Regions from separate parts of the Homo sapiens genome. Here regions 1, 2, 4, 5 and 6 are each reported to be linked to region 3. The links are microRNA targets in miRTarBase. Many come from high-throughput screens and were not tested one by one. Region 3 holds a microRNA gene; each other region holds the end of a gene's coding sequence.
What was found. Region 3 holds the annotated microRNA hsa-miR-6749-3p (CUCCUCCCCUGCCUGGCCCAG, at 1,585-1,605, shown strand). A microRNA usually pairs through its seed, bases 2 to 8, with sites in the 3' UTR of a target mRNA and lowers its output. Matches are read on the target gene's strand: a 7mer-m8 pairs with bases 2 to 8, a 7mer-A1 pairs with bases 2 to 7 and ends in A, and an 8mer does both.

Region 1 (3,212 bases), not on the chromosome of region 3:
GCAGCCACATTGGCAGGAGTGAGGTCCCAGGAGCCTCCTTTGGCAGGGGGTGTGGCCAATGTGTCCTCTGGTTCTGAGAGGTCCAGGTGATGACCGGGAGCACCCCGGGGATCTGGCCATGGGAGGTCACTACTGACCTGGTGTTCCAGAGGTGCAAAGGGGTGGGGAGTCGGACTGAAGAGAATCCAAAGAGGACAGGAGTGAGCCACGGATGCCGAGTGTGGTCTTTTGAGTGGCCCCCAGGAGGGCTCAGGCAGAGCTGACTTGAAACCTGCTCCCCTCCTCCCAAACTATTCTCCCCAGGGCAAGCCATGAAGCGGGACTGTGTGGCAGCCCTGCATGCCCTCCACCTCTCTGTCCCCTGGGGCACCGGACCCCACTTTGGCATTAGACCCCAGCCTCTGGCCACAGCTAACTGCCCAGGGGTCGGCCCCGACCCACTTGGCCAATCAGAGTCCCCCGTGCAATGCCAGGAGCTAGGACTCAGGGGGGCTGATTCCCCACCTCTTGTAGGGCAAGGTGTAAGCTCAGCGTGGCTGCAGGAGCGCCTGTACCCGCTGCTGGGGGAGAGAGACAGCGGTGATGTTGCCAGGCTGAGAGGCAGGAACCCATGAGGGAGCAGAGGGCACCACCTTGGGCTCTGCACAGTGACAGACCTGCTGGGTTTCCAAGACTTTCCACCCTCAATCCTAGCCCTAAAGGGTCACCCGCCGCCTCTGAGGACTGGGAATCGGGGGTGAGTGAGTGGAGGGCACTGAGCTCTCTCCCTGTTTCCCTCCCTCCATCCCTCCCTCCTCAGGATGGGAGAAGACCCTGATTTCCAGCCCCTCCAACGCCCACCTGGCTGCCCTGGGCACTCCCGGGGGCCTCTCCGCAACGCAAGGACACCAAAACCACAGGGCTTTGAAATCATCGATCGAGTTTAATACATTGTAAAGAAGGAAAACTACATTGGCGTATTTAAGACAAACACTTTTTCTCTATCCTCACTACCCACTGGACGGTCCTCCTTGGTCCAAAAAAAACCTAACAATCTCAAGACACATCGGCAGCTACCCCTCCCGGGTCCAACCTTTCAGATCCTCCCATTACACTGTTAAAACATGTAACTCAATCCATCCGCGAAGAAAACCAAACCAACAGAAAAGGAAGCTGAAGACATGGACATCGCAAGCCACGCGGTAATGCATACTTGGCACAGAGTAGCCAATATAGAAGACGTGTGCCTCACACGGTTCACTTTGTTCATCAATAAAAGAATATAAAAATCTTGTTCACCCAGTGGTAAGTGTATTAAAATAGATCTGTATCATACAGCACAGTTTCTCCCGGAGTCGTGAGAATGACAGGAGGGACCGTGGCAGCTGCGGGATTTGCCGGCCTCCTCGCTCTGCACCTCTGCGTGTGTGCATGCGTGTCTGTGGTCGTGGCCGCGTGCGATGCACACACGCGTGTTCAGTGCAATTCGGCACCATGTGATATGCTCGGGGTGGGAGCCCGTGGCTCCTGGACGCTTATCCTGTTGTGCTGAGTCCCTCAGGACTGGGATGTGGGAATCGGGCAAGGGTGACAAGCTGCCACTGCCCACCCTGGATGCAGAAGCCCTTGGCAGCAAGTCTGGTCCCCGAAGGCCGGAACCTCCCGAGCCACCGCCCTTTCTTTCCTCCCCAACCCTCCACCCGGCTCGTAAAAAACCTGCCGGATCTTCCAGCTTGGCCAGGCTTCCCGAGGGGAGGTGTTCCCATTTGTACCTTGAAGCAGAGACTACTAGAAGCAGAAAGGAAGTCAGCCAGAGTCCCCCCAACCATTCACATTAAATATCTCACAATAAAAACGCCATACAAAAGTGTGAAGTTATTTTTTGGCATAGTGTCTGCACTGGCAAGAAGGGAGGAGTGGAATACTTATCGGCTCTTCCAAAGGAGACAAGAAAGGGCTTCAGTCGTTAAGTTGAATGATTCAACCCCAAGGAGAAAACCTGCCAAATGCTGCCCCCCACAACAGGGTTGCAGCTCCACTCTGCCCAGAAACTCCATGAGAAAAACGCATCAACGGCAAACTGAGTCCAAGAGATTGGCAAAAGGAAGGAGGCAGCCTTGAGGACCCCAAAGACGGAGCAGGAAGGGCACAGGCTCTGGCGGGGATCACTGCAGCGTCCCGGCGCCCAGATGCTCACCTCCGACAGTGTCTTTCAAGTTAAACAGCTGCAATTCGTAACCCTAATAATACTGACAGAAAGGGGCCCAGGTGGTTCTGCAAAGGCGACGGAGTGCCCCAGGCCCGCCCGCCCACCCCAGGGGGACCTCCTAGGAGCGTGGGGCATTGAGGAACTACCTAGATCCACTACCCCGCTTCTCGTCCCAACTACCGCTACCACTCAGCTAGTCCATGTGTTCTCAGCTCGCCCTCCCACAGGACACCAATAGGCGGTGCCCTCAGTGGAGACTGCGTTCTGGGGGGCGTGCTTGTCCCCTCCACAGCCTCAGCCTGCCCCTCCAACGGGCCAGAGGGAGGCCGTGGAGAGCAGGGCCTGGAAGCCAGAGGCCCAGGCAGCCCCGAGGTGGCCGGGGGGAGACTGTGTGCCCCAGCCTGTCGTACCCCACCTGGCTCCTAGGTACCCCCTGTGAATTTGGAGGGCACAGGGCCGCACCCCCACCTGGTCCTGGCTCTAGGCCTCTCGCCCAGCTCTTCCTCCCTCCTCTCCTCTGTCTGGTTAATTTTTGTCTGAAATTCATAGTGTTTATGAATTAAGGCCGACAGAACCCCCAGGCTGTGTAAGCAGGGTCCCAATAACTTTCCGTGGGTATGAAGACTGGTCCCTCGGGGTCAGTTGTGGCCCTGGGGGTGCTGGACGGTGGGGTGTGTGGCTGCCACTGAGGGCTTGGTCCAGGGCCCGGCCAGCAGTGGGGCAGGGCTAGTGGTCGTCATGGTGACCTGGAGCAGCTGCTCGCCCTGTATCAGTCTCAGGAGGGCCCGCAGGCGGTCCAGGGATGACTGGGTGCCCCTCTGGCGGGCCAGCAGGCTTGTCTTCAACTCCAGGCATTTCTGTTGGGGAGAAGGTCAGGGGAAAGGGTCTCAGTATTCGGCTCTACAGCCATCCTGGGGCAGCCACCGTCTGGGCCCCTCTCCCCTCCACTACAAAGGCCTACAAGAAACCAGGCTGAGGGCTTCACAAAAACCAGGCAGTGGTGCAAATGCAATTAAAGAGCAGC
Region 2 (3,241 bases), not on the chromosome of region 3:
CAAGGCTCTTAGTCTCTAACACTGTTTCTCTGATTCACATGTGCTCTCCATTTCTGCCCATTTCTTACAATTGCCTTCTCTCCCTAGGTCACCCCTGGAACTTCACATTGGTTTCCCCACAGACATCCCTAAAAGTGCCCCCCACTCGATGACTGCCTCATCTTCCTCAGTTTCATCCCCATCCCCAGGTCTTCCTAGACGCTCAGCACCCCCTTCTCCCCTGTGCCGTAGTTTGTCTCCTGGGACTGGGGGAGGAGTCCGAGGTGGGGTTGGTTACCTGTCCCGAGGGGACCCTGTCCGGGTCCTTGCTCGGAGAGTACGGCCTGATGGCTCTGTGCAGTACCTGGTTGAGTGGGGAGGAGGGGGCATCTTCTGAACAGCCTGCCTCTGCCCAGCTCCCCATTCACACACACCGGCACTTTCATACCCTGACCTCTGACCTCACCTACAGCTGGGATGTACCTGGAGAGATAGGGGGTAGTTCTCCCTACTGCCCAGGCTGGAATCCAAGAGTGGGGAGTGGGGAAGAGGCCCTCTTCTCTACCCTCCTTCATGATTCCTGACCCCTCCCATCCTTCCCATTTCCTTTGATGTTATTTTGTTACAGCTTTTTAAATATTTTTTAAAATTATTTAACCCCTGGGGGCAGAGACTGAGGAGGGAGGATGATAAGGGATCCCGGACTCTGTATGATTGAAATAAAGAGAAATAAACAAATCTAGCAGCTCTGAGTCATTCTGAAAGATGTAGAGAATACAGGGACTAGAAGCACTTATATTCTCCCAACAAATTTGCATACATGACAAAAAACAGGCAAAAGGCAGAGAGACCCAAAGACGGGATTTATTGGGGGCCCAGTCATCACCTGGAAGTCAGAAGGCGTTGAAGTATCGCGGGGATCTTCATGATGAGCAGGAACAGGGCTCATCATGGCAGGACTGTGATAGAGTCAGAAACTGACTCTGTGACCTGGCGCACCCACTGCAGGTACGGAAAGTTCCCCTGTTCCACAGGCAATGCAATTACCTCGGCCACTTCGTAAGGGTGCACAGAACTACAAAATAGGTGGGTGGGGGAAGGGGATCACTCAAAGATTTACCCAAAAGAACCCACTCCCTTACACGCAAGCCCTAGACTGCCCAGCAAGTCACACCCACACAGTACACACCCTCACCCCATCCATCTCAAAGTTCTCACCGAACAAAATCTGTCAAAGCTGGGACCAAGGAACTTTGGGTTTTAATCATCTAAGGGACAAAGATAAACATGGTTGAATCAAGGAGTGGGATTGAGTTCAGTTTCTCAGAAGAGGGGTAAGGGCTAAAGGGGTCAGGGATTGGGGATATTTTGTTGGGTGGGGGAAATGTTTCTCACCATCAGCACCTCACTGTCTTCCTCGATCTTCCCTTTCCACTCATAGCTGAAAGGTCAGAGGGGGAGAGTTGTGGGGAGCAAAGAATTTCCCCCAGGAAAGAGGTTCCCAGTCAGCTCCTACAGTTAGGTTAACCCCCCAACTCCTATGACTCACATGGATGTAATCTGAGGGATGAGGTTGACGCAGGCTGCTAGGCGCTTCTCCACCACGGCCCTGGAGTGAAGAGACAGTCCCATTCAGAGTACCCCATAACCCCAGTTTTTGTACTGGCAGCCCAGAGACAGGCTTCCAGAGCTGGAGAAAGGAGAAAGCAGCACTCTTCTGCCCCACCCCCAACTGTCCCTTCATGATCATCCTTTCTCGCTGCACATCGAGGTCCCTACCTGGCGATCTCCTTGGCGACCTTCTCGTTGGGGCAAGTAACAAAGGCTGCAGAGACCGAGCCCGGAACGTAGCCAGAGCCGGAATCCGAGGCCGGCGAGGGCTGGGTCGGAGGGCTTCCAGAGGCCATGGTCAGCAAGACTCGGGGTAGCAACAAAAGGCGGGAGGCCACAGGCAGCAGCGCCGGCATCCAAACAAAAGACAGGAGCAGAGAGGCCTGAGAGCAGGAGGCGAATTCGATCTCTCCTCACAAACAGCCCAGGAAATTACACCCGGGGAAGCCTTCGCTTAGATCCTCAGGCTCTGCCCTCCCTCTGATGCACCCCCGAAGAATGCCCCTGAAGGTGAGAGAGAAACTTGGAAAATAAAGCAAAAGCTCATTTCACTCACACCTCAGGGGGCCAACCTCTGGGATTTAGGGTGCGGGTAGCGGTCGAGGCTTCGAGGACCGGAAGGGGCGGGGCGGGGCCGGTCACTCACCACTCCGCCGAGCAGGACCGCGGGAGCCCGCCCCCCACTCATGCGGCCTACGCTGGTACAGGAGAGTTGATCTCAAAGGCCACACGTCACACGGAGAAACAACCCCAGGAAGAGCGGCCTCTTCTTACCTGGGTGGCAGCCACGTGATTAGAAAACAGCGCGCACCATGTGACAGTAGAAGAAGGACCACCTGCGCCTCCAGAGCCAGCCAATCCCGACCCTATCATGGCGCGGTTTGCCCACCTCCTGATGAAGGAGGAGCCATGGGAGACTTGACCAATCGACTACCGCATCTGCAGACGTGCGCGGAAATGGCACGCCCGTTTCCGTGTGAACCCGAAACTGCCACTTGCTGGCTGAGGAGAGCCGCTGCGGCGTTCCACTGTCACGTGAGGGGGCCGGTCCTCTTCGGCGGCGGCACTCAGTGAGTGACGCCAAGTGGCCAATCACAGGCCAGCCTCGCAGGCCACGTGAGGCGAGAGCTGGTTCCAGGAAAGGGGGGCCAGAGACCCCGCAGAGTCGATGCGTCAGGCTGTGGAGTGGGGAATCATCCTTAAACCCCACAATGTGCCTAGTGACCTCCCCTGCACTGTTTCCGAGGTCTTAAGGAGTGGGAGGGTCTGAGAAGGACCCTTCACCCCAAACTCAGGGGTTAAGAGAGCGCCCCCTGCCCTTTTAGTTGGGCAGAGATATGCCTGGGTTTGGGAATGAACAACGGTGATCTAGAAGCCCGCTGTCCCTGGGTAGCAGGGAGTGATTAGGCAGGCACGGGCATGGCAAGACAATAGCTAGCTGAGGAAAGAAGCATTTTAAAACAGAGCGAGACCCTGTGGTAGAGGATGGTGAAAATGGGGCCTAGCCATCTTAATTGAAAACCCAAAGCTTGAGACAGACTACTGAATCAGAGGGAAGGAGAACGAGGGCTGCAGGATGGGGACAGTGGTGATGGTCCTTCTGTCCCCTCTTCCCTGCCTATTCCACTCCCCAGGATTGGTCCACCTCTCA
Region 3 (3,241 bases):
TTACAGGCGTGAGCCACCGCGCCAGCCAAAAATAAGGACTTATTTTAGAAGAACCACAAATGCAGCAGGGAGAAAAATGGACACCCCTTCCCAGGACTGTCATGAGGCCCCATTGAGGTGTCGGAACTGCAGGCACTTTGAGAGCTGCAAGTGCTGCCCGCTTCCCACTGCCTGCTGTCTGGGCCTTCTCCCCATTGTGCAGGCAGGAACGCTGAGGCTGGAGGGGCCTGTCCATACCACCTCCTGTGGGCTTGGGACCCCTCTGCTCGGCTCCCGTGGAGCTGCCCCCTGCAGCGGTGCCCGGGCCCTTCTCAGCCCTGTTCCCCCCCAGGTTCATCCTCGATGACTCCGCCTTGTACCTGTCCGACAAGTGTGAGGTGGAGACCCTGGACCTGCGGCGAGGTGGGCAGGGCCGGGACTGGGCTCCCTCCCCTCTGAGGGACCACCGCCCCGGCCACACCCAGAGCAGCCAGGTGTCTCCCCGCAGCTGCTGGCCGGGTCCTTAGCTCCCACACGTAGCCCGCACAGCAGGGACTACACCTGGATCAACCGGATCCTTCCCCCAGGTGCTGGGGCCGGGGCCGGGTGGAAGGGGGCCACAGGACCTTTCTCTCGCCTCTGCTGCAGATTATGTCTGTGTTTTGGATGTTGACCTCTTGGAACTTGTGATTAAAACCTGGAAAGGGAGCACCGAGGGCAAACTGGTGAGTGAGGCTGTCACTCTGGCTCCTGGAGCCACAGCAGGTGCAGGGGCCAAGGGAGTCTTCAGGGGCTGCTGCTCCCTCACGTGCCTGGGCTCCGGACACAGTTCATGCCTGCCCTTCCTGGGCTGCAGTTAGCGCCCCTCCTGCAAAGGGCCATAGTACAGCCCTGGTGGGGGTGTCCCTTGATGCTGGCTGAATGAATGAATGGGTTTCAGCCCTGCCACCAGAGGACGCGGCAGCCAGGGCACCAGCGAGGCCCTGGGAATCAGCCACCTTTGTAGGTCCCCGGATTCATCTCCTGTAAGATGGAGATAACCTGCCCTGCCTCGCTAGGCATGCAGAGCCCTTCACGGGGAGTGGGGTAGGGTGGGTGGGCACACTCCTGCTTCCTTGGATGGCCCTGGGCCAAGCCCCTTTCACCCTCTGGGTGAACAGTTTGTTCATCTGTTCAGTGGAGTTACTGGGCAGGTCATCCACTCCAGGAGAGACCATCCCTGTTCTGCCTGTGGCAGGATCAGAACTGCGGTGCCCTCCCAGCGAGCGGGTGGGGCCAGCAGGCAGTGGCCCCTGTGTTCACATAGCTGCTCCCCCCACCCCGCCCCTGCAGAGCCAGCCACTATTCGAGCTGCGCTGCTCCAACAATGTGGTACACGTGCACAGCTGTGCCGACTCCTGTGCCCTGCTGGTCAACCTGCTCCAGTACGTAATGAGCACAGGCGATCTGCACCCCCCACCCCGGCCCCCCAGCCCCACGGAGATCGCCGGCCAGAAGGTACAGGTGAGGCCTGGCCACACAGGCTACCAGAGCTCGGCCAGGCCCCTCCCCTGCCATGGCCCTCGGGCCTGGGGTTGGGGGAGCTCTGTCCTGTCTCACTCATTGCTCCTCCCCTGCCTGGCCCAGCTCTCGGAGAGTCCTGCCTCTCTGCCCTCGTGCCCCCCAGTGGAGACGGCCCTCATCAACCAGCGTGACCTGGCCGACGCCCTCCTGGACACCGAGCGCAGCCTACGGGAGCTGGCCCAGCCTTCAGGTGAAGTGGGGGTGCTGTGGGGACAGCAGACACAGTCAGGCACCCACTGTGGGCGCCTCTCCAAACTGGCCTCTCTCCTATAGGTGGCCACCTCCCTCAGGCGTCGCCCATCTCCGTCTACCTATTCCCAGGTGAACGGAGTGGGGCCCCACCCCCTTCACCACCTGTCGGGGGCCCTGCTGGCAGCTTAGGGTCATGCTCAGAGGAGAAGGAAGATGAAAGGGAAGAGGAGGGCGATGGAGACACCCTGGACAGTGATGAGTTCTGCATCCTTGATGCTCCCGGCCTGGGCATCCCGGTGCGTGGTGGGAGGGATGGACCAGTTTGCCGTCCAGGCAGGTGTGTTTGGAGCGGGGACGGAACACTCAGGGGTGGTTGCCTGGCCATCTGGAGCTCCCGTGGTGAGAGAAGCAGGCAGGAGGTGGTTGCCATCACCTCGGGGGTGGTGCTAGGTCTGTGCCACCCTAGGGAGGCAGCCCTGATGCTGGGCTTTGATGGAGTAGGGGGATTTCCAGAGGAAGAGGAGGCCTGGTGTTTTGGGCAGAGGGACTGGGAAATTCAAGGGATGGAGGAAGAGGAGAGGGCAGTTAGCAAGAGGGATGGAGAACCATGTGGCTGCAAGGGCCAGTGGGAATGTCTGAACTCACCCAGGTCTTAGGAGGCAGGGCTGGCAGGAGCCTGGCATTCTCAGGCTCCTCTTGGACAGACCACTCAGGCATAGACTCGGGTGATAGCAACCCAGGAGTGTCATCTTTCATCAAAAACAGGGAGGAGGCCAAGCATGGTAGGTTACGCCTGTAATCCCAGCAATTTGGGAGGTCAAGGTGGGAGAATTGCTTGAGTCCAGCAATGAGAGATTAGCCTGAGCAACATAGTGAGACCCCGTCTCTACAAAAAATAAAAATAAAATTAGCCAGATATGGTGGCACATGTCTGCAGTCCCTGCTACTCAGGAGGCTGAGAATGGAGGATCGCTTGAGCCTAGGAGGCAGAGGTTGCAGTGAACTGTGATTGTGCCACTGCACTCCAGCCTGGGTGACCGAACATGACCCGACCCTGTCTATAAAAAAAAAAAAATGAAAAAGAAGTGAGGCCAGGTTGCTGGGGCTGGGGGCAGCTGGGCTGGATCGAACATCTGTGTCACACGTCTACCTGGCCTCCCTGCAGCCCCGAGATGGGGAGCCTGTGGTGACACAGCTGCATCCCGGCCCCATCGTTGTGAGGGACGGTTACTTCTCACGGCCGATCGGCAGCACGGACTTGCTGCGGGCACCTGCCCATTTCCCAGTGCCCAGCACTCGGGTGGTGCTACGTGAGGTCTCCCTCGTCTGGCACCTCTATGGGGGCCGAGACTTTGGCCCCCACCCCGGCCACAGGTGAGGAGGAGCGGGTGCAGGTGGCAGCTGGTGAAGGTTGGGGCTCAGGCTGGTCCAGGTCTGACTTTCAGCAGCTGGAGACCTTGAGCCCCATCCACCCCAGGTGGGCCTCAGTTTCCTCATCCTTCCTTAT
Region 4 (3,198 bases), not on the chromosome of region 3:
AAGAACTTGAACGGGAATACGCCACGAATAAATTCATTACTAAGGACAAACGGAGGCGGATATCAGCCACGACGAATCTCTCTGAGCGGCAGGTCACAATCTGGTTCCAGAACAGGAGGGTTAAAGAGAAAAAAGTCATCAACAAACTGAAAACCACTAGTTAATGGATTAAAAATAGAGCAAGAAGGCAACTTGAAGAAACGCTTCAGAACTCGTTGCTTTGCCCAGATAATGATAATAATGCTTAATAATAATTGAAGAATGGGAAAGAGAAAGAGACAGAGACTGGCATTTTCCTCTCCCGAAGGAGATCTCTTTCTCTTTAATGGAATCTACAACTGTTTTAAAACTTTAAGAAAGGTAAAGACTGCCAGTTCTTCCGCCAACCCCATCAGCCCAGCCCGTTAAATGTCAAACGTCAACCCCCAAAATACGCAATTTCAGATAAGTTACGCAGTTACTGAAATCTTGTAAGTATTTAAGTGATCGTTACATTTTAGGACACTGCGTTAGATGGTAATAATCTGGAAGTTGGTTACAAACGCAAGAGGCCATTGTAAACATCTGCTTGTCCTTCTTAGGTCGCCATTCCCTTTGCATGTTAAGCGTCTGCTCAGGTAAATCTTAGTGAAATTCCTACCGTTGTTGTACGTTCTGCAAAACATTTTATGTATAGATTTAGAGGGGAAACGAGAAGGTACTGAAATAATGATCTTGGAATATTTGCTGTGAAGGGAGAAAGGGAGAGAAAACTCTTCTGAGGATCATTTGTCTTGGTAGTATAGTAAAACCAACCAGCTGAACCTTTCAGGCTACAAGAGAACCCGGGTCGGTAATGTCTTTTTAAGAATAATTTTTAATTGCTTATAACAAGCATATTTTGTGGCATTTGAACTATATTTACTGCTCCAATATCCGTTATTTTCCAAAGGATTTTGTATCTTTTTGAAAATGTTTACATCATCAGATGATCCACAGAATTCACTTTATGTGAGATCTCCCGAGAGTTTCCATCCCAACATGATGGACTTTGGTTTGAACACAATTCGTTTTTTCATTTGAATTGGCATTTCCCAATATTTGCTAAACATTTGCTGGAGAAATCATTTTTCTTTTTTCTTTTTTAGAAAACTCAGAATGAAAATTCATTCCCCTGAAATATTTAGGTGTCTATATTCTATATTTTGATCTATTAAGGGATTAGTATTTTTCCATGTTTATTGTGTTATCAGAGTGCATTAGAAAGATTAGTGATTCATCTTCACAGCACATTTTTAATCAAGCAGTTATTTCAACCAGCACATTCGTTTTGTTCATATTCACTATAGAATGATATCTTGTAAATAAAGACATTCAGCACACTGTGAAAATGTATTTGTGCACCTGCTTTTTAAATATTTCTACTAAAAATGAAAAAAAAAAACCCTTAGACCTGTAGATAGTGATATCGTAATATTAATTGTTAATAAAATAGTCACTGCCATTAAAATCTGCAGAAAATACTCTTTACTTTCCTATGCTAAATGTGCACTGCACAGAAAGAAAAGGAGCAGGTTTATCTTATATAAACCAAGGACCATTCTTTATTATTATTCAGTACTTCTTTTGCTACCAAATTTTTAAGAAAAGGGAGAAATCCCTCATAACTAAAATCCTAAAAAATGATAAGTGCTTCAAGGAGATTAAAGTGTCAGGTATTACAAAAGGGAGAGAAAAGAAAGGAGGAAGAGATAGTATGAATTCCCAGGCTCCCTGTGGAAAATGAAAACCAGTTGTTTTGTAGCAGCAATGCCTAGGCTGTCGTATTTTAAAATCTGCTGTTGGGTCTGCATGTGTCTGAGAGGGCAGGTTTTGATATTTGTTGAAATGACAGGACTACGAAAGGCCTTAAACCTTGACCTTGACGAAAAAAAAGACAATTTGTGACCTTGACTTTTGACAGCTCATGAATTGGCCTTAGCTGGATTAGTAGATCAAGGGCGCCACCTCGCGTTGACAAGCCTCCTTGTAATTCTTCAACCAAGGGAATCAAGAGCTCTTACCTCCTTGACTTTAGAGATTCAGTACTCAATTATTTGGCTCCAGCTGGAGCAAATTTGAATATATGTAAATTATACATGTCCCTGTATATATGTAAATATATATAATATGTGTACACATGTATACATTTGCATATTAGTGCTTGTGTGTGCTTGTATATATATTTGTAGAATCTGTACAGATATCATATCATTAATTGCTAATGACGCAAGATATTGTAATTTAAGGTGATTTCTAGAATTGAGGTACAAAATGTACTTTACAAGATGAAGCCTTGTTCCTTTTCTCTAATGGCCAAATTTGATTTGTCTTCACAGTGGCTTGCTCTGCATCAGATTTCTGCAGATCTGCTTTAAAGCTGTACATTTTTGTTACAGTCTAAGATGTGTTCTTAAATCACCATTCCTTCCTGGTCCTCACCCTCCAGGGTGGTCTCACACTGTAATTAGAGCTATTGAGGAGTCTTTACAGCAAATTAAGATTCAGATGCCTTGCTAAGTCTAGAGTTCTAGAGTTATGTTTCAGAAAGTCTAAGAAACCCACCTCTTGAGAGGTCAGTAAAGAGGACTTAATATTTCATATCTACAAAATGACCACAGGATTGGATACAGAACGAGAGTTATCCTGGATAACTCAGAGCTGAGTACTGCTCCAGGGTGGTGTGCAATCTTATATTGATGCTTGTGAATCTGCCATTTGATTTGTAGGATAAATAAATATGTTTAATATTAACAACTTCCATCAAAACTATAATAATAATATTATATCTACTGTTGACCTCTAACAACAATCAGGTGCTGTATTCAGAGTCATAAAGAATACATATGTATGTTTGTATATTTAATATACACATAGGATAATGTGTTTTTGTCAAATCTATGCTATGCGCATATGTATTAAAATGTTGGTGGAATCAGTAGCCGTGGGATGCAGAATTGTGAGATGCAGGCTAATTTTATCTTTACGTTAGAGGAAAGTAATAGTGAATGGAAGAACCAGATTCATCATTTTATGGAAAATAATATTGATTGGTTACAAAAGTGGCTGCCGGAAACCTCTCCAACCTCTCCTGAGGACTCACAACTTCTTTATAGATGAGAATTACGAAAGAGTCTCTAAAGCTGTCTCAAAAACAGGCTGGTGTTGAAACATACATAT
Region 5 (3,241 bases), not on the chromosome of region 3:
TCTTCCCTCAGCCAATGCTGAGGCCTTGAAGGAGATGCTGGGGGACAGTGAAGGAGAAGGGACAGTGCAGCTGTCCAGGTGAGCTGGAAACAAGGGCCAGCATGACTTAGCTTGCCTTGGAGAGTATCCTCTCCTCCAGCACAATCCTCTCCCAGCCTCCTTGCATGTATGGGGTTGGGGGAAGGGCAAAGCTGGCTAACTTATAGGAAGAAAGTTGTTTTGTAGAAATCGCGATTCCTTCAAACCATCTCTCTCATCTAGATATCATCAAGCCTAACATTCACCTCTAGTGCCACTCCTTTGGGTTAAGCAGTGTTCTTTTTAGCAAACAGCCCTGGGAGGAAGAACATATGGTCACTAACATCTTAATATTGAGTTTATTAGATAAAGACAAGAAAAAATGGGGCTTGGGGAAATTGGGGCTTCTGGGGTTTTAAGGAGCATGCTGAAAGAACGTAAGAAACAAAACATGAAGGGAAATGGAAATGTTACCCTCACTCCCCTCCTCCCTGCTGTCCAGTGTGGATGCCACCTCCAGCCTGCAGGACGGAGCCCCCTCCCATCATCACACAGTGCACCTGGGCTCTGCAGCCCCTTGCCTCCATTGCAGCCGCAGCAAGAGGCCTCCACTTGTCCGTCAGGGACGCTCCAAGGAAGGAAAAAGCCGCCCCCGGACAGGGGAGACCACTGTGTTCTCTGTGGGCAGGTGGGGCAGGTGCTCCAGGGAAAGGGGGGCTGAGGTAGGGGGCCCAGTGATCAGGCACCTGATCCCAAAAGTGGGCCTTGGCTCTTTCCTCCTGGACTGGGAGCTCCGGCAGAAGTCAGGCTACACAATGTGCCCCACAATCTGAGAAGGCCTCCCCTACCTTAGGCCAGAGGGAAGTAGCCACCAAACTCAGGATGTCCCTGGTCAGAGGGGAGGGCCAAGCAGCCTCTGAGTTGTGGTCCTAAACCCCAGTGTTCCCTCCCCTCCCAGGTTCCGGGTGACACACATTGAGAAGCGCTATGGACTGCACGAACACCGTGATGGCTCCCCCACAGACAGGAGCTGGGGCTCTGGTGGGGGACAGGACCCAGGGGGTGGTCAGGGGTCTGGGGGAGGGCAGCCCAAGGCAGGGATGCCTGCCATGGAGAGGCTGCCCCCTGAGAGGCCACAGCCCCAGGTCCTAGCCAGCCCCCCAGTACAGAATGGAGGACTCAGGGACAGCAGCCTAACCCCTCGTGCACTTGAAGGGAACCCCAGAGCTTCTGCAGAGCCAACACTGAGGGCCGGAGGGAGGGGCCCAAGCCCAGGGCTGCCCACTCAAGAGGCAAATGGGCAGCCAAGCAAACCAGACACTTCTGATCACCAGGTAGGAAAACACAGCCGGGACTGCACTGGGCTGGGCTCTTATTGCTCTCTACTCTGGGGGGCACTGATAGGACCTACTCCTGGTCTCTCATTGTTGACCCCTCCCCTTTCTCTCAGGTGTCTCTACCACAGGGAGCAGGGAGTATGTGAGGTGAGTCTGCCTGAGCCCTAAATGAGGTAATCTCATCTTCCCATCACCTACTTAAACTATTTAAGCCTTTCGGCTCCCTGAACCCCCCGAGTAAACTGCAGGCTTAGCCTTTGCTATAAATCCCTTGGTTTGGTGGTGGAGGTAGGGAAGGTCCTGGAGCCCCAGGGGAAAAGCTGGACACAGCTTGAACAGGAAGCAACAGTGTTATTCTTCCTCTTCTCCAAGTCTCCTTCATTGTGCTGATGGACTACCAGCTGGCAGGGCCAGGGGGTGGGTGGGCGTGAAAGCCCTCCCCTCCACTGGACAGCACTGCCCCCCAGCTGAGGGACCAGCTCTACTTCCACCTGGAGTTGCACAGTCTCAGGCTGGGGGCCTCAGGAGAGGTCACAGCCCCTCAGTCTCTTCTCCTTCCCCTGCCTGCAACAGGCTGCCTGCCCCGCCTTCCCCAACACCTCGCTCCATATGATAGAGCGTGGCAGCTGGGAGCAGGCCCCTGCCCGTGGTGGGCCCCTAAAGCAATAGCACCGTAGGCCCCCTGCCCTCTTAGCACAAGAGGCCCAGGCCCTGGCCTGGCCTTCGTGCCCTTTATTCATTGTCAATAAATCCGCTCAGACCATTACAGCTGCTTCGCATCCTGGCTCCAGCTCCTGATTCCCAAGGCCTGTTCCTCTCCCCAGCCCAACCCCAGTGACCCTGGCATCCAGAGTGGGGTGGGTCATGGAGCCAGGGTGGGGAAAGAGGTGGGCCAGAACTACTAGAGACCTTGATGGATGGTTTCCAGCCCCAGAGATTTCAGGCATTTCACCACCCTAGATAGGGTCATGACAGAAGAGAAGGTAGTTCCGGTCCTAGAGATGATAGAACAATGGGAAAAAAAGGAGTGGGTTCCAGCTCTAGAAATGGGAAGGGGCAAGTTTCCACCCTTGGAGGTGAGGGTGGAAATAAGGGCGATTCCAGCTTTTGGCTGTGTTGCTCTGGATCATTGATGGTGTGGTCTGACAGCTTGAAGATAGGGACAGCAGCATCACTGGGGGTCAAGGCTTCCCTGGCCTTCAGGTGAGGGGATCTGGGTGGCCAGGATCCGGGGCTTTAGCCGGCGGGGGAGGTGGTGGACGCATCTGTAGGGAACACACAGTTAGTGCTCCAGAGTTCTCCCTTAAGGGTATCCCTGTCTATTCCCTCAGCCCTGCAGACAAAACAGGACTGGTTGGAATAACCCCTCTACATACAATCTCCTCCAAGGCAAGGGCCCTTACCGGCCTGAGTCGAGGTGCCATCATGTCCAGGAACCCAGGGAAGTCCAGGGCTTTGTCTGGAAATAAGAACCACAAGTCAGTCTTCAGACTTTGTTTTGTTCAATGCTGTATCTCCAGCACTTAGGACAGTGGCATTCTATAAATATTTGTTAAATTAATGGTCACCATCCTAGACCATAAAATCCATCACTCTATCCACTGTCCTCAACATTTATTGGGCAACTGCTGTATAATCAGCTCTGCTCAAGGTACAAAACTAAGGGAGATAGGATGCATAGTGCTCCCACCCCCAATGGCTGTCAAGAAACCAATAATGAAACCTCAACAAACACAATAAATGACTAAGTGCTAAGTCATGCAAAGTGAACTTGGGGTGGTGGAGATGGTGGTAACTCCAGGGAGGGAGACTCCTTGTGGACAAGGTGGAAGTACCAGAAAGTTTTAGAAAAGGCAGGCATTCCACAGCCATAAAAAAGAATGAAA
Region 6 (3,241 bases), not on the chromosome of region 3:
TGGGTGACTTGGATAGTTGAAACTAAATTTACTTTGCCTCTCTTGCTTTGTTTGGGGATTTTTTGCTCCTTAATTTCTTATTCGTATCACAGAATTATTCTGCAGGGTATCATGGCACTTAGACCACCTTAATCATAGTACAGAAAGAGGGAAAAGGGGAAATATTGGGAAATGTTGGGAGGTGCTCAACATTAGCTGCATCTGCTAAAGCAGAAAGCTTTAAGAAGTGAAAGTCCAAGAACTACGTAAATTATTTCTGTATGATTGGCAGCAGTAATAATATTCGTGTATGATTTTTAAATGCAATATTCAAGTTTATCTTAAAAATTCAGGTATTTTTAAAAGTGTCTATTATGAGGGATTTTAATCAGGTTTTGCTGCTTCTCATTATTTAAGCAAAATGTGATTGACTTTTGTTAACATGATTTTACTTTATGTTTCCTCTAAAAACACTGACTGTCTTTCTTTTTTTCTCCCACTCCACCCCCAGGGGAGAAGCCTTTTTCTTGCCCTCACTGCAACAGAGCATTTGCAGACAGGTCAAATCTGAGGGCTCATCTGCAGACCCATTCTGATGTAAAGAAATACCAGTGCAAAAACTGCTCCAAAACCTTCTCCAGAATGTCTCTCCTGCACAAACATGAGGAATCTGGCTGCTGTGTAGCACACTGAGTGACGCAATCAATGTTTACTCGAACAGAATGCATTTCTTCACTCCGAAGCCAAATGACAAATAAAGTCCAAAGGCATTTTCTCCTGTGCTGACCAACCAAATAATATGTATAGACACACACACATATGCACACACACACACACACACCCACAGAGAGAGAGCTGCAAGAGCATGGAATTCATGTGTTTAAAGATAATCCTTTCCATGTGAAGTTTAAAATTACTATATATTTGCTGATGGCTAGATTGAGAGAATAAAAGACAGTAACCTTTCTCTTCAAAGATAAAATGAAAAGCACATTGCATCTTTTCTTCCTAAAAAAATGCAAAGATTTACATTGCTGCCAAATCATTTCAACTGAAAAGAACAGTATTGCTTTGTAATAGAGTCTGTAATAGGATTTCCCATAGGAAGAGATCTGCCAGACGCGAACTCAGGTGCCTTAAAAAGTATTCCAAGTTTACTCCATTACATGTCGGTTGTCTGGTTGCCATTGTTGAACTAAAGCCTTTTTTTGATTACCTGTAGTGCTTTAAAGTATATTTTTAAAAGGGAGGAAAAAAATAACAAGAACAAAACACAGGAGAATGTATTAAAAGTATTTTTGTTTTGTTTTGTTTTTGCCAATTAACAGTATGTGCCTTGGGGGAGGAGGGAAAGATTAGCTTTGAACATTCCTGGCGCATGCTCCATTGTCTTACTATTTTAAAACATTTTAATAATTTTTGAAAATTAATTAAAGATGGGAATAAGTGCAAAAGAGGATTCTTACAAATTCATTAATGTACTTAAACTATTTCAAATGCATACCACAAATGCAATAATACAATACCCCTTCCAAGTGCCTTTTTAAATTGTATAGTTGATGAGTCAATGTAAATTTGTGTTTATTTTTATATGATTGAATGAGTTCTGTATGAAACTGAGATGTTGTCTATAGCTATGTCTATAAACAACCTGAAGACTTGTGAAATCAATGTTTCTTTTTTAAAAAACAATTTTCAAGTTTTTTTTACAATAAACAGTTTTGATTTAAAATCTCGTTTGTATACTATTTTCAGAGACTTTACTTGCTTCATGATTAGTACCAAACCACTGTACAAAGAATTGTTTGTTAACAAGAAAAAAATGAATAATGCTTATTATGCATCTGAAGTGTTATTTTATGTGTTAGATTATAATAAAGTAAGCTGCTAGTATTATTTTTACTCAAGATAGTAGTATCACATTCAGAAGAGACATGACGGTGGTTTGTTAGCATACCACTTTAACAAAAATCACACTTTCTGGGTGCAAAACTAGTTGTATTACTAATAGTTAAAAATACTTTTCAAAATTTTTCATGTTGACTTTATTAAGTTTGTTTTATGAAGACAAAAAATACAATCACTTTTATTATTACCTACACACTGTAACAGTTTAAGATTTTTAAAAGAAATATTATGTAAAGAGATATATGAGGGAAAAGAATACAAACTGCATGAAAAGACCAGGAGAAACGATTTACTATAAATTACACAAGTTGGAAAGTTAAACCATGCAAAGAAAACCCCGCATCTAGTAATATATAAAATAAGTGATGTGTTTGATAGGAACAGGTCAGTGAGCAGTGGAAATTACCTTTTAAGGTATTTGAACACGTTGGACAAGCCCACACTCAAACCTAATGTGTACTGGAGAAAGTATAACATGACCATGCATTCATACACATATGCATGTGTAGATGCTAAATAAATGCATGTGTAGTAACTCACATGCAAAAATCCTAACCATCATAGGAACTGTGAAAGTTAGCCAAATATATATTTGAATTCAAACTCCTAAACCTACTAAAAGAAGAAGAGTCCTGCTTCTGTTCATCACATCTCTCTGGTGATTTGATCAGAACTTGGAGAATCATCTTTTTCCTTTTAATATCTTTGTAATATTATACCAATAAATGCCAGAACCTGTATCTCAAAGATGTTGGTAGCAGGCCCCTAGCAAATGACCAACAATAAATACCAATACTATTCCCTTAATGTTCGCATTCCTTCCACTGTATGTTACATTTACATTTTCAGCCACCATATAAAAGGGGGTGCATTTGACTAAAAAAAGGCTTCCCAAGTATTCTGCTTTAATTTTTTGACATTGCAATACATATTTTTTAGAGGCAAAATTATTTGAAATAGCAGTTTATGGATATGAAAAAATGGCTGATAGCTTGACTGGAGCATTCTAAACTTATAAAAGTACCAATTTAGCTAAATGTATATGGTATAAAAATGATTGCCAATGATTGTCTAGAAGTTTCCAAGCCAGCTAGCATGTAGAAACATCTGGCAAGGGGAAGTGTGAGTGAGTCAAGCCTTCTTGGATGTTCTGGTTGGCTATCCCAGGAATCATATCTACTCCTGTTTCCCTTCCTCATTTGTAGGTCTACAGGCAAGTAGTGTCTTGGTGTCCAAAATCTAATCAGCTTTCTAAGAGGAAAAGTCTATTCATTATTTAATTTCTTAGTGAAGAATTAGTAGTAATATTTTTGTAATTTATTTGACTTCATTCTCATCATTCTAATTTCATGTT

Region 1: the mRNA of PHF21B is a reported target of hsa-miR-6749-3p. Seed matches in the 3' UTR shown: 8mer at 2,689-2,696, 8mer at 1,661-1,668 and 7mer-m8 at 1,081-1,087.
Region 2: the mRNA of PHF1 is a reported target of hsa-miR-6749-3p. Seed matches in the 3' UTR shown: 7mer-m8 at 660-666.
Region 4: miRTarBase lists HOXA13 as a target of hsa-miR-6749-3p. Seed matches in the 3' UTR shown: 7mer-A1 at 1,721-1,727.
Region 5: miRTarBase lists FCHSD1 as a target of hsa-miR-6749-3p. Seed matches in the 3' UTR shown: 7mer-A1 at 792-798 and 7mer-m8 at 504-510.
Region 6: miRTarBase lists SNAI2 as a target of hsa-miR-6749-3p. Seed matches in the 3' UTR shown: 8mer at 1,225-1,232 and 7mer-m8 at 1,320-1,326.

Annotation. Positions count from the first base shown.
Region 1 is chr22:44,880,260-44,883,471 of GRCh38, forward strand. It overlaps PHF21B (PHD finger protein 21B), which reads right to left. Exons shown (of 13, transcript NM_138415.5): 13 at 903-3,045. The coding sequence ends at 2,827. Among named protein-coding and RNA genes, the nearest start is that of PHF21B, 130 kb to the right of the region's middle.
Region 2 is chr6:33,415,723-33,418,963 of GRCh38, forward strand. It overlaps PHF1 (PHD finger protein 1), which reads left to right. Exons shown (of 15, transcript NM_024165.3): 15 at 88-717. The coding sequence ends at 376. CUTA (cutA divalent cation tolerance homolog) reads right to left here and starts at 2,385. Exons shown (of 6, transcript NM_001014840.2): 1 at 2,237-2,385; 2 at 1,759-1,973; 3 at 1,529-1,588; 4 at 1,375-1,420; 5 at 1,198-1,247; 6 at 720-1,054. The coding sequence starts at 2,278. The coding sequence ends at 928. It also overlaps a transcript of SYNGAP1 not described here.
Region 3 is chr11:64,900,751-64,903,991 of GRCh38, reverse strand. It overlaps MIR6749 (microRNA 6749), which reads left to right and starts at 1,537; the gene lies at 1,537-1,605. ATG2A (autophagy related 2A) reads left to right here. Exons shown (of 41, transcript NM_015104.3): 25 at 332-402; 26 at 628-704; 27 at 1,312-1,476; 28 at 1,606-1,732; 29 at 1,816-2,030; 30 at 2,900-3,108.
Region 4 is chr7:27,195,164-27,198,361 of GRCh38, reverse strand. HOXA13 (homeobox A13) reads left to right here. Exons shown (of 2, transcript NM_000522.5): 2 at 1-3,198. The coding sequence ends at 164. Among named protein-coding and RNA genes, the nearest start is that of HOXA13, 3.3 kb to the left of the region's middle.
Region 5 is chr5:141,638,944-141,642,184 of GRCh38, forward strand. FCHSD1 (FCH and double SH3 domains 1) reads right to left here. Exons shown (of 20, transcript NM_033449.3): 19 at 2,759-2,814; 20 at 359-2,620. The coding sequence ends at 2,555. RELL2 (RELT like 2) reads left to right here. Exons shown (of 7, transcript NM_173828.5): 3 at 12-78; 4 at 521-706; 5 at 977-1,352; 6 at 1,469-1,502; 7 at 1,728-2,121. The coding sequence ends at 1,501. Among named protein-coding and RNA genes, the nearest start is that of RELL2, 3.6 kb to the left of the region's middle.
Region 6 is chr8:48,916,238-48,919,478 of GRCh38, reverse strand. It overlaps SNAI2 (snail family transcriptional repressor 2), which reads left to right. Exons shown (of 3, transcript NM_003068.5): 3 at 491-1,881. The coding sequence ends at 672. Among named protein-coding and RNA genes, the nearest start is that of SNAI2, 3.6 kb to the left of the region's middle.